Linked DNA regions of Homo sapiens. The protein of the gene in region 2 purifies or fractionates together with the protein of the main gene of each other region. This does not show direct contact. Each region holds a gene or a part of one and is shown on either strand. Other genes may lie near its edges. The genes, in order: EIF3C, RSF1 and CENPA.

The links.
Region 1: the proteins of RSF1 (region 2) and EIF3C fractionate together in Homo sapiens (co-fractionation; one large-scale study listed by BioGRID). This does not show direct contact.
Region 3: the proteins of RSF1 (region 2) and CENPA purify together in Homo sapiens (affinity purification with western blotting; 2 studies listed by BioGRID, with this or other methods). This does not show direct contact.

What each region holds. Positions count from the first base shown.
Region 1 is NC_000016.10:28,721,390-28,725,042, reverse strand, and holds part of EIF3C (eukaryotic translation initiation factor 3 subunit C), read right to left. Parts: intron 1,880-3,653; coding exon 1,720-1,879; intron 1,596-1,719; coding exon 1,492-1,595; intron 792-1,491; exon of another isoform or gene 722-791; coding exon 580-721; intron 386-579; coding exon 260-385; intron 125-259; coding exon 31-124; intron 1-30. UniProt on the Homo sapiens protein: Component of the eukaryotic translation initiation factor 3 (eIF-3) complex, which is required for several steps in the initiation of protein synthesis.
Region 2 is NC_000011.10:77,659,486-77,663,852, forward strand, and holds the end of RSF1 (remodeling and spacing factor 1), read right to left. Parts: 3' UTR 524-4,367; downstream 1-523. UniProt on the Homo sapiens protein: Regulatory subunit of the ATP-dependent RSF-1 and RSF-5 ISWI chromatin-remodeling complexes, which form ordered nucleosome arrays on chromatin and facilitate access to DNA during DNA-templated processes such as DNA replication, transcription, and repair.
Region 3 is NC_000002.12:26,789,030-26,792,199, forward strand, and holds part of CENPA (histone H3-like centromeric protein A), read left to right. Parts: intron 1-3,101; coding exon 3,102-3,170. UniProt on the Homo sapiens protein: Histone H3-like nucleosomal protein that is specifically found in centromeric nucleosomes. Replaces conventional H3 in the nucleosome core of centromeric chromatin that serves as an assembly site for the inner kinetochore.

The DNA.
Region 1 (3,653 bases), on a different chromosome or scaffold from region 2:
TCAGCAAAGCCCACGCTTGCTCAGGCTCACCTTGGGAGTGAGGGTCAGTATTTTGCATTATTTTGGTAAATTCTTCATCCATTCGTTCCACCAGAGTTAGGATGCAGCCACGGACACGCAGTGGCTGAAAAGGAAGGCGAAGGAGGAGTCAACAAATTAGCCCAGATCTCAGTCTCAAACCTCAACCCTCGGGTCCCACTGAGCCTTCCCAAAGCATAAAATACACACCTCCAGTTATCCTGCCAACTCCTCCCTTTACCTGGTCAGCGTTGTGCAGGTTCTCACTCTCTTCCAGAATATTCTCTCCAACAAAAATGTTGGGATTTGCAAACAGGATATCCATCAGCTCATTGATGCAGTCCAGGCACTTCCCCCACATCTCTGGCTGCCAAGATTTCAGGCCACATCAGAGTCAGAGGTGTGAAGGTAGAGTAAGCGGATGCCTCCCCCTTCAGCAGGAATCATGGGGCCTTCCACCACCAAGACTGCCTCCATAGCCCCTGAGTCTTAAGATGCTAGGTACCTTCTTCCCCCAACCCACCAGCGATGCCCTGAGATGAGCCTCTTCACTGCTCTCACCTTCATGTAGGTTGCCAGGTTGGGGTTGTAGTCATAGAGAGAGGCGATGATATTGAACTTGATCTTGACAATGACGCCCTCTCCCAGGTTGTTTTCCGCTGCAATCTGAACCAGCAGTTGCAGCAGCTCAATCTGGGCAGCACTAGAGGGCCAGAGAGCTGGGTGAGGCTTTGGAGACAAATCACAAAGTCTCTCCCAGCATGCCCGCTTCGGATAACGCGCCCTCCTCATCACCCATATCCCTGCTTCTCCTTTATAAATTCCAAACAGAAGCAACAATAATCCCAACCATCCTGGAATGCTGTGAAATGCTTCACACCTACCACCATCCTCTGTTACCTAATAACTAAAGAAGGTAAACACTCTTTTACTTTTTTAATCTTAAAAAAAAAAAAAGCCAGGTGTGGTAGCTCATGCCTGTAATCCCAGCACTTTGGGAGGCTGAGGCAGGCGGATCACTTGAAGTCAGGAGTTCGAGACATGGTGAAACCCCATCTCTACTAAAAGTACAAAATCAGCCAGGGATGGTGGCGGGTTCCTGTAATCCCAGCTACTCAGGAGGCTGAGGCAGGAGAATCGGTTGAACCCAGAAGGCAAAAAGGTTGCAGTGAGCCGAGATCGCGCCAGTGCACTCCAGCCTGGGCAACAACGAGACTCCATCTCAAACAAAAAAAAAAAAAAAAAAAAAAAGAGGAGAACATTATCTCATTGTATAGATGGGAAAACAGATCCAAAACGTTAAGTGATTGGTTTTAAGTCACAAGAAGAGTAAACAGCAGATAATGGACGGGGATGCCCCAAGCATACAATTCCCTCTACTACAGCCACACACAGACCCTCCCAACAATCCCTTCCCCCAACCTCCACCCTCTGCCACCCTGCAATCCCACTGCCCAGGCCCACGAATCTTACCGATCAGTTCCCTTCTTGCCTCGTGCCTGTAGGATCTCATTCAGTTTCTTGATAACAACAGCATGGGTGATCTCAGTTCCCTTGGCAAACATTTTTGGCTTCTCCTGTATCAGCACATATCCCGTCATGTACATGCCAGCGGGAAACTGTCCTTGCCTTTTCCCCACAAGGGGACCTTTATGTCCTCCCAAACTGTTCCCCAATTCATTTTACCTCTGAAACCCTCACCTTAACCAACGGCACTCCGCCCCGGACCCTTTCCCACTCCCCGCCTTCATTGTCCTCCTCCTCCTCATCCAGGCGCTTGGATTTCCTGTCGTGCTTCTTCTTAGCTTTGTCCTCCCGTTTCTTCTCGGCTGCCTTCTTGTCCTCATCTGTGGTGGGTGCCCTGCCGACAGACATGGGAGAAGATGACAGATCAGCCCCTCCCCACCTCTAAGGCTTCTTCCTCCCATCAACTTCCTCTTTTCCTCCAGCAGCTCCTGGGTCCAAGTTATGCTCTACAACAATGACCTAGAGGGCACAGTGAACCATAACCATAGCCATCTCTAACAAGACAGAGTACTAACCAGGCCACTGTAGACATATTAATAGAAACAACCTGTCAGCTAAGCATGGTAGATCACTTGACGTCAGGAATCCAAGACCAGCCTGGGCAACATGGTGGAACCCCATCTCTACTAAAAGTACAAAAATTAGCCAGGCATGGTGGTGCACGCCTGTAGTCCCAGCTACTTAGGAGGCTGAGGCACGAGAATCACTTGAACTTGGGAGGCAGAGAAGGCTGCAGTGAGCCACAATCATGCCACTGCACTTAAGCCGGGGTGACAGAGCAAGACTCAGTCTCCAAAAAAACAAAACAAAACAAAACAAAAAAAAACCAACCTGTCATTTTGCTCCAAAGCTAACATCTACAGTTTTCCAAAGAATCCACAAACAACTTATTTTCTTTGATACCAGCTGCTTTCTCCAGACTGACCAACTAATCAATGAATCAGTTCCCCCAAATATATAAAAACATTTTTTTCTTTTTTACTATTCCTAAACTGTTTTATCGCTTTCTCTCCTCTCTTGACAACCGATTAATCTAAATTCTGAATTTAAAAAAAATGTTCATTACAAAAAAGGTCCCCACAAAACAGAAAAAGATCACCAGCTACCTTAAAATGGTCTTAGGCTACTGGATGTTGCCTGAAACCATCTCCAGACTTGAGTATGTATTTATGTAACAAAATACAAACCAAATGGCAAAGACAAATTACTTCAAACTTTGCACAGATACTGAAGAATAAATCTTTCCAGAAAGACTCAACATTTTTGAAAACTCATATGTAATAACCATAATCTACCATTTGAACATTTATAAATAAATTTCATTTTCACTGCTTAAAAGGTTTGAATATGTTTTTGGAATAGTCTATAAGTTTACCAGTTAAATTAAGTCTTCCCTTGCCAGAAGACCAATGCCATAACTCTCAACAAAAGTGTATGGACTGGCCAAGCACGGTGGCTCAAGCCTGTAATCCCAGCACTTTGGGAGGCCGAGGTGGGCGTATTGCTTGAGCCCAGGAGTTTGAGACCAGTCTGGGTGACAAGGTAAAAAGCCCGTCTCTATTAAAAACAACAACAACAACAACAACAACAACAACAAAAGCTTATGGATCTTTCCCCTGTACCACTGCAAGACTCTAATGATGACTCACTTTATAGGTAAAATCCTTTGCAAATATGCAAAGCATGTTCATTAAACTAAAACCTCTTGGTCCAAACCATCTGTATAGCTCTGAGATCAGAAGAACTAAAGCTATTTTTTAAAATGAATGCTTCAAAAGAACTTAAACTTCCTTGGCTAAAGTATTACTTCTAGCACTAAAGATAGTATGATACACACCTCAAAAGGGAAATGTACTATTGTATGAAATTCTAACTGAAAGACCTAAGACTTGGCTTGACCTCTCCTATGACAGATTATACTCTGGTATATTCATATCTTGTTAGAAATTATCAGATAACAAATGTTTATATCCTCAGCTATATAATCAACAGATAAAAGCAACATTTCTAAACGAGTATTACCTCTACTTAATACATAGTTAAGAGACTAAAAACTCATTATTGAGAGACACCAACGGAAGTCAGGCCTAACTACACTGCAGAGGACC
Region 2 (4,367 bases):
TTTGTAGCTGAGAAGCCTACTCAGGGTTGGAAGGACCGGTTAGTCATTTGGTTTAATCCATTTTTTAAGGCGTGGATCAATGTGTGGATGTTTGGTCTCCCAAACATCCCCTATTCCTAATAATTCACTTCCAAGCTTGTTTATTATTAGAGAACTAAGCTTCCTCCATAGAATGAATGGAAAACTTTTGCCCTATGGCTTCTGTCCTCTGGTCTAGTTCTGTGCTCTTATGGGACCACACAGAACAAGTCCACAGCCTCTATAATGTGTTAGTTCTCCAGAGGCTAAATATAGAAATCAATAATAGTTTTCTAATATCTATATTTGTCTAGTTGGCAAATAGCCTTAAAAATTATTTTAGGGAAACTGATGCACTTGCAAATTTACTTTCTAGATAGCGGGAGAACAATTCATCTAGGCCTGGGTGATAAATTTTAACCGTCATGAACTGTTACAGACAATTTGTTCCATGTGCCACAAAATTTAAAATAAGCTAAGTTTGCAAACACATCATGCTAAATAATTCAAATTTAAATTTTTATTATGACAATTGACATATTAAGTGAAAGAAATGACAGAAGTATTATAATAAAACATTTTGAAAGAAAAAGTTACACAATTAGGCCAATAGCTATAAAATGGCTTTAGGCCTGGCTTATAACACCAAGAGTTCTGATCAGACTGTAGTGAGACACTGAACATTTCATTAACAAAAATACTGGCACCAGCCACAACATATTTTGGTTGTCACTTACAAGGAATATTGTATTTAAACAACTATGCACTGCAATTCTAACACACTAGGTGTTCATACACTGAAGTTAACCCCTGAAGCTTTAAGCTACCAAGAATTCCCATACTTTTAATGCACAATTTACTTTGCGTGTTATCAGAATTACATTTCCAGTTTTCTGATCTTCCCTGCCCCCCCACCCCCACACACATGCAGTACATTATGTGACAGAGAGCACTCCAGCTTCTATTTGACTAACAGCATGGTCCTGATTACCTCAAGAGTTAGTTTTATGCCAATCTTGGAGCTTCTGCTTTAAATCTCATCTCCTAGAAACCAAATAAAACATTCTGAGAACCTATTCCAGGAATATTTTTTTTAACGCATAGGAAAATAAAGCATTTCATATAAGCATGTTGGAAAATTCAAGAGGCATTCTGATCAGTCCCTGAATTCCAGCTATTACTTTAAATCAAAATTCTAAAGATACCATTTATAAATTTTTATGTGGAATTTGTATTCTTCATATGGAAACTCATGATCTGCAGGCTTCCCTTCTGAATGAGGATAGCAAAAAACTGACGCTGGCAACACATGAATATAGCTTTGATTGAAATTATGACACACTTAGATGAATTTAATTATTTTCAAGAATACACTTGTACTACAAAGGTGAGAAATTAGAATGGCAAAATTATCAGATGGGAAAAAGTACTGACATTTAAACGAAGCTGTGAATATACCATGGTAAAATGTGCCATGTAAAAGACTGTGCTAGAATCAGAAGTTCTACAAGATTTCAAAATACTTAGTGAATAAGGAAGGAACTGAAACTTGAATTTGACTTCTCTTGCTGCCACGCTTCAGCAGACAACTATTCCTGTGGAATTAAGTCCACTGAATAACCAAATAGACCAATTCTAGTTTTTTCCTTCTTTTATATGAATAGATTAAAATCAAGCCCTGCTCTACCACCATCTTAGCATAGGACATACCCTTTCAAAGTGTACACACAACCTCATGGCAGGTTTGGGCAAGCTACAACAGATACCATCTCAAGAAGCTACTTTGAAAGAGAATAGAACACCAGACTAACATTGAGAATACCCTAGTTAGGCATCACAAAAATCATGTGCTGTAAGAATATGCTGTTAACAGCCAAATCTGGGCTACTGTAGCTGTTCTGATCCTGAAAATCCATTTACTAATATAAGCTAGATGTGTGTGTGTGTGTGTGTGTGTGTGCAATTTTCATGCAGTGACCTTAAAGCTTTGGAGACAGGGCTTGTTACTCTAATTTCAAGGCTTGTCCACATAGCAGTTGACATGCACCAATTCTGCTAAAGGGCAGGAGAATGAAAAAGACATGGCACAAATTTTTAAACAATTTTAGGTTTAATTACATAATGCACCTGTAGATGATCTAGCATAAACACAATTGTAAAAAATCTACATCCTATTTTAGGGTATTTTCCCACCTCCCATCCCTTAAAAGCTGTACAGTTATTTTTTTTAAAAAAAGGTGACTCTCAAGCAAAATAAACTTTTTTTTTTTTTTTGCAACATACAAAATAAGTTAAATGATTCAGAAGGTTTTGAGCCATGAAGTTCCCCAATAACTATGTTCTGGCTGTTCATGAGCATGACGTGCAAGCTGCTGGTCTATGACCAGAACTCAATAAATACAGATCAAACAAAACCGCAAAACACTTAAATTAGATTTCTTTAGAAACTGATGAAAGTCAAGAAAATATATACTTAGGATTAACAATTCCATTCTTAACTTACATCATCCAGTGGCAAAAAGCACGAGGCAAGTATTCAGTCCTTAGCACACTTTCTAACTTGTACCGGTTTGGCCAAAAAAGGAAAAAACAAAATTCCTTTAAAAATGTTTTTTTCTCATTCAAAATATCCAAGAAATTTTATAAATTTCTACTCATCTATTGTTATGCCCTCTTATATAACTTATGTATAGGATAGTCATATTTTAAAGTTATTAAAATAAACATCTTCACTAACTGAAACCATTATGATGTGCCAGAATTGGGTTTACTGAATTTTCCAAAGTGGTATAAATATGAAAGGAAAAAAAAAATTGTGCTCAGGTGTCCAAAAGGAGGAAAAAAGGTCCACAAATTGGATCCTCTTCTAATCGACTTCCAGGAGGGTTTGCATGAATGAATACAAAAAGTGGTGAGTGTATACTCTAAAGTGGTTATATACTAAGCTCATTACATTTTGGCTTATGACTGCTTGCTTGGCAATTACTCTCTTCAACATATTACAGTTACTTAGCAATTCTTGGCACTCAAAAGATGTTAAAAGATAATTTAAGTTGGAGCAAAACATTTTGAAAACAAATTAGTGAACATATAGCAACTCAGTTTAAATACATTGATAGCAAAAGGCTTTGACCTTAAGGATTGGTATAAAAATGACACAAAAAAATCAGTTAACTTGCCACTTCCAAGGTAGGTTTACAGGCACACACTTTGGGAAAGGTAGATGATATAGGAATGGATTTTAATCTGAGAAGATTCAATAATGGATCATATTAAGCAGAAGAGGGCTAGGTAGATTACAGCAGATATGCAGCCTTGGCATTCTCTGCTTCTTCGAGAATGAGGAATATATTTTGAGAATGTCAAACATCAGGAGAAACTGTTGTCTAGATTTTCTGTAATTAAATGATGTTCATAATATTTGTATCTGTTGCAATGCAGCCATCTTATTTCTTTCAAGTTAATGATGGATTCATTTTTATTTTTTCTGATACTTATCTGAAGTGTGTGCGTGTGCACACACACACACACATATACACATGTACCATTTAACTCTGGGTCTTTGAATAGTTGTTCTATAGCTGTGAGGCATCACCTTGAATAACGGGCCTGTTCCACTGTACTGGTAAAGAGCGGAGTTCCTAGCTTTTTCTGAATATTAAACTTGTAGATTCATTAGGTTCTTTACAGTTGTGTGGTAGAATCAGCAAAGGGTTAACATCTCTTATGCCCACAAACAAGCTAAAAAAGCATTCCTTGTGACAAAGGACACCCCACCAGTCCCACTTAAAAACAGCTAACATTTCCTCATCATTTTGACTATTAAACAAGTAAATGTCCATGTTTTTCTTAATATGTGTACTTTGCTCAAATGTATATTATAGGATGGGTTTCATCAACTAAAAAGTAAAAACTGGGTACGTGTAACACCCTTTTAAAATTAATTTGTTTAAAAATTATTTTTCAAAAGCTTCATTAGCATTTAAAGTTTTTGGTTCTTGGGCAGGTCACTTTTATATATAGATTGCCAGTAGACATGAATTTATTCTAAATGAAACTACCCTTTATCCTCTGAATCTGTAACCTTGACCAATTGAAAAAAGGATGTCAAGGAAATATAACTTGATGTACATTCTTGAAAATATCTCTGCCATCATTTTGCAGTAATGTGCCAATGATGGAAAATGTTTTACACTAATTTCATCAGCACTGATGTACAAAACCAAAACGTTTTCAGTCTGCGTCCTTTTCACACATATTTCAGTTCAAAGCTTCTGCTGTGTGAAAAGCTGACTAGTTTTCAAACCTTTTCAGAAATTGCAAACTAAATATACTGAATATTAATCTAC
Region 3 (3,170 bases), on a different chromosome or scaffold from region 2:
CTTCCCTATACCTCCCATTTCCCTCTACTTCCCTTCATAGCTGTCCTTTTAAAATAGCCAGACTTGTTAGGTCCACATACATTGCATCTGATTCCTCCCTTCCTAGTGACCCTACAACCCACTCCAATCTGACTCCCCACAACCACTACCCCCACTTCTAATCTGCTTGAACTACTCCTGTCAGGGTCACTAGCACCTTTTGTAGTGCCAAATCCAGTAGGTGGGTCTGTGTTCTTACTGTGTCTCAGAAGCATTTGACGCAGTGGGCCTCTTTCTCCTTGAAGCGTTCTGTTCCCTTGGCTTCCATGCCACTGTGCACTCTGGCAGTTCTGCTTGGTGTTCTCTACTGCCTGTGCTGCCTCCCTCGGCTCCTTGATGTTGGACTTCCTTGACATCCTTTTCCTTTCTACCCCCTCCCTAGGTGGTCTCATCTCCTCCGTGGCTCTAAATCCCACTCATACATTGACAGCTCTCAAATATCTGTATACCTGGATCTCTCCTCTGACCCCAGATACCTATATCTAACTGCCTTTCTACCTGAAGGCTCTTGGTTATGTTAAACTTAACACACCCAAAACTGAACTTCTGGTTACTCCCCTCCAGCCCCTTCATCCTCAGCTTCCCCATTTCAGTAAATGGCACAACTACCCACCCAGTTGTTCAAACCACAAGCCTGGGAGACCCCCGTCTCCAATACAAATGCAGGTCCAGATAATTCTACTTCCAAACTGCATCCTTAATCACTCCATTTTCACCATCTCTGCTCCCACTAGCCTAGTCCAAGCTACCAGCAGCTCTCGAGCAACTGTGAGAGCCTCCTAATCAGCTGCCACTCCACTTCCACTCTGTCCCTTTCTACTTCTTTCCTTACACAGCAGCTGGAATGACCTTCCACATCTCTATCCTGCATAAAACTCTTCCCTGGCTTCTTATTACAGTAGGATTAAATTCCATCTCCTCATGTTGGCATTTCAAGACCCAGCTACTAAATTTTTGATCCCAGTTCTTTTCCATGATCTCTCTAATTGGTTACTTTTCATAACCACTTGTTCTTGGGTCATGGATTTCATATCTCTGTTACCTCTCTGAGTTCATTAACCATTTTTCTCTCAAAGTTTCTATTTCTTTTCTCTATTAACTCAATTTCCTCTGGTATTGGCTATTTTGTTTGTTGAGTTTGGTTCCTTTCTTTCATGGTATTGGCCTTCTTAAATTGTTGGGTGATCTTTAGTTGTGTTCATCTTCAAATTTTCTGTGAATGCTATGTCTTGTTTATTTTTTTATTTTATTTTATTTATTTATATATTTTTGTTTGAGACACAGTCTCATTCTTGTTGCCCAGGCTAGAGTACAGTGGTGCGAGCTTGGCTCACTGCAACCTCCATCTCCTGGGTTCAAGCAATTCTCCTGCCTCAGCCTCCCAAGTAGCTGGGATTACAGGTGCCTGCCACCATGCCCGGCTAATTTTTGTATTTTTAGTAGAGATGGGTTTCTCCATGTTCATCAGGCTGGTCTCGAACTCCTGACCTCAGGTGATTGACCCACCTTGGCCTCCCAAAGTGCTGGGATTACAGGCGTGAGCCACCGCACCCAGCCCTATGTCTGTTTATTAAAGACTGCCTCCAGTGACTGGATTGCCAACTGGTGGTGGGGAGGGAGGGAGGTGTCAGTAGTTTTTCTCCTGGGCATGGGTCTTCCCAGTTTTAAATGTTATCAGTCTTCTGGACACTGCCCTGTTTCATTGGCCTGTGTTCTCTAGCCTCACCCAGGGATGGTCTCCTCTGCTGGCTGCCTGGCACAGGCCATCTCTGGATTGTCTCACCTACCCTACTTGCTCTTGCAGCTCTTCTAACACTTCGTGATTAGTTTATTGTATTAAATGCCTTCTATCGAACTTGGTGTAGAGTCTCTTTGCTTGGCTGGATCCTGAATAACATTTCTGAAACAATTTTATCCGTCAACATGTTATTTTTGTATTTTGTTTGTTCAACTTATCAGATGTTCACTCATCTTGATCCTTGGTTGTAATTATGGAGCAACTGTGCTGTTTTTTCTTTAACTTTATTTTCACTAACTTATTTTCTAATATTTCTTTTGTTCTATCTTGTTTTGGTTTACTTTAATAACTCTGTAATACTTAATTTGACTGCTTGGCTCAGATACCTTTTAGTGTTCTTGTTTTCTAATAGGAACACTTTAAGGCTATGCATTTTCCTCTAGTACTATTTTGGCTGTATCTCATAAGTTTTGGGATATGGGCTTTTTATTGTTATTCATTTCCAAATAGTCTAATTTCAATTAAGTTTCCTCTTCAACACAGGTTAGTTAGAAGAAACTGGTTTTTGATTCATGAGTTTTTAATTTCCAATTAGAGAATTTGGCTTTTTTGATTCCTACTTTTGGGAATGTTTTTAAAATTATTTTCTTTTTTGTTCTTGTTGGAACCAGGATTTGAGCCAAAGGCTCTGTCTCCACAGCCCAGGTGCCTGACACTGACACTGAGTTAGGCCACACCTTACACAGGTCTCAGCTTGGCCACTAATGAGGGCTGGCCAACCATCTTCACCTCGCTGGGCCTCAGGATGATCAAGACAAGGGAATTGTACTAGTCTCTCAGATTCTTTCCAGCTGTAAAAAACAAACCAACAAAAAATCTAAAACCAAAATAACTGAGCTTCCAATCTAGGTGGGAAAGATCTAAGACTTGTACAAAGTCCTGCAAAGCCCAGAGGAGGGCGGTCACCCATCTGTTTGGAAGGATCAGGATTCGGGAAAGACTTCATGGAAGAGTTAGCATTTAAAATCAACTGCAGAGGATCATTCACTCATTCATTTAACAAATGTTTATTTAGCACCTATCTGCTATTTTCTAATTGCTGAAGATAGCAGCAAAATTACTATATATCAGGTTGGTGCAAAAGTATTGTGGTTTTTGCCATAACTGCAATGACTTTTGCAGCAACCTAATAAAACAGACAAAAATCCCTGCTCTGTGGAGGGTAGGCACATAGATATAGTCTAGCAATTTGACAGCTTACCTGACTCAGCCAAGCTGCGAGGCACCACCTATTTTCCACTGAACTTACCTTTCTTTTGCTCAGGCGCTTCCTCCCATCAACACAGTCGGCGGAGACAAGGTTGGCTAAAGGAGATCCGAAAGCTTCAGAAGA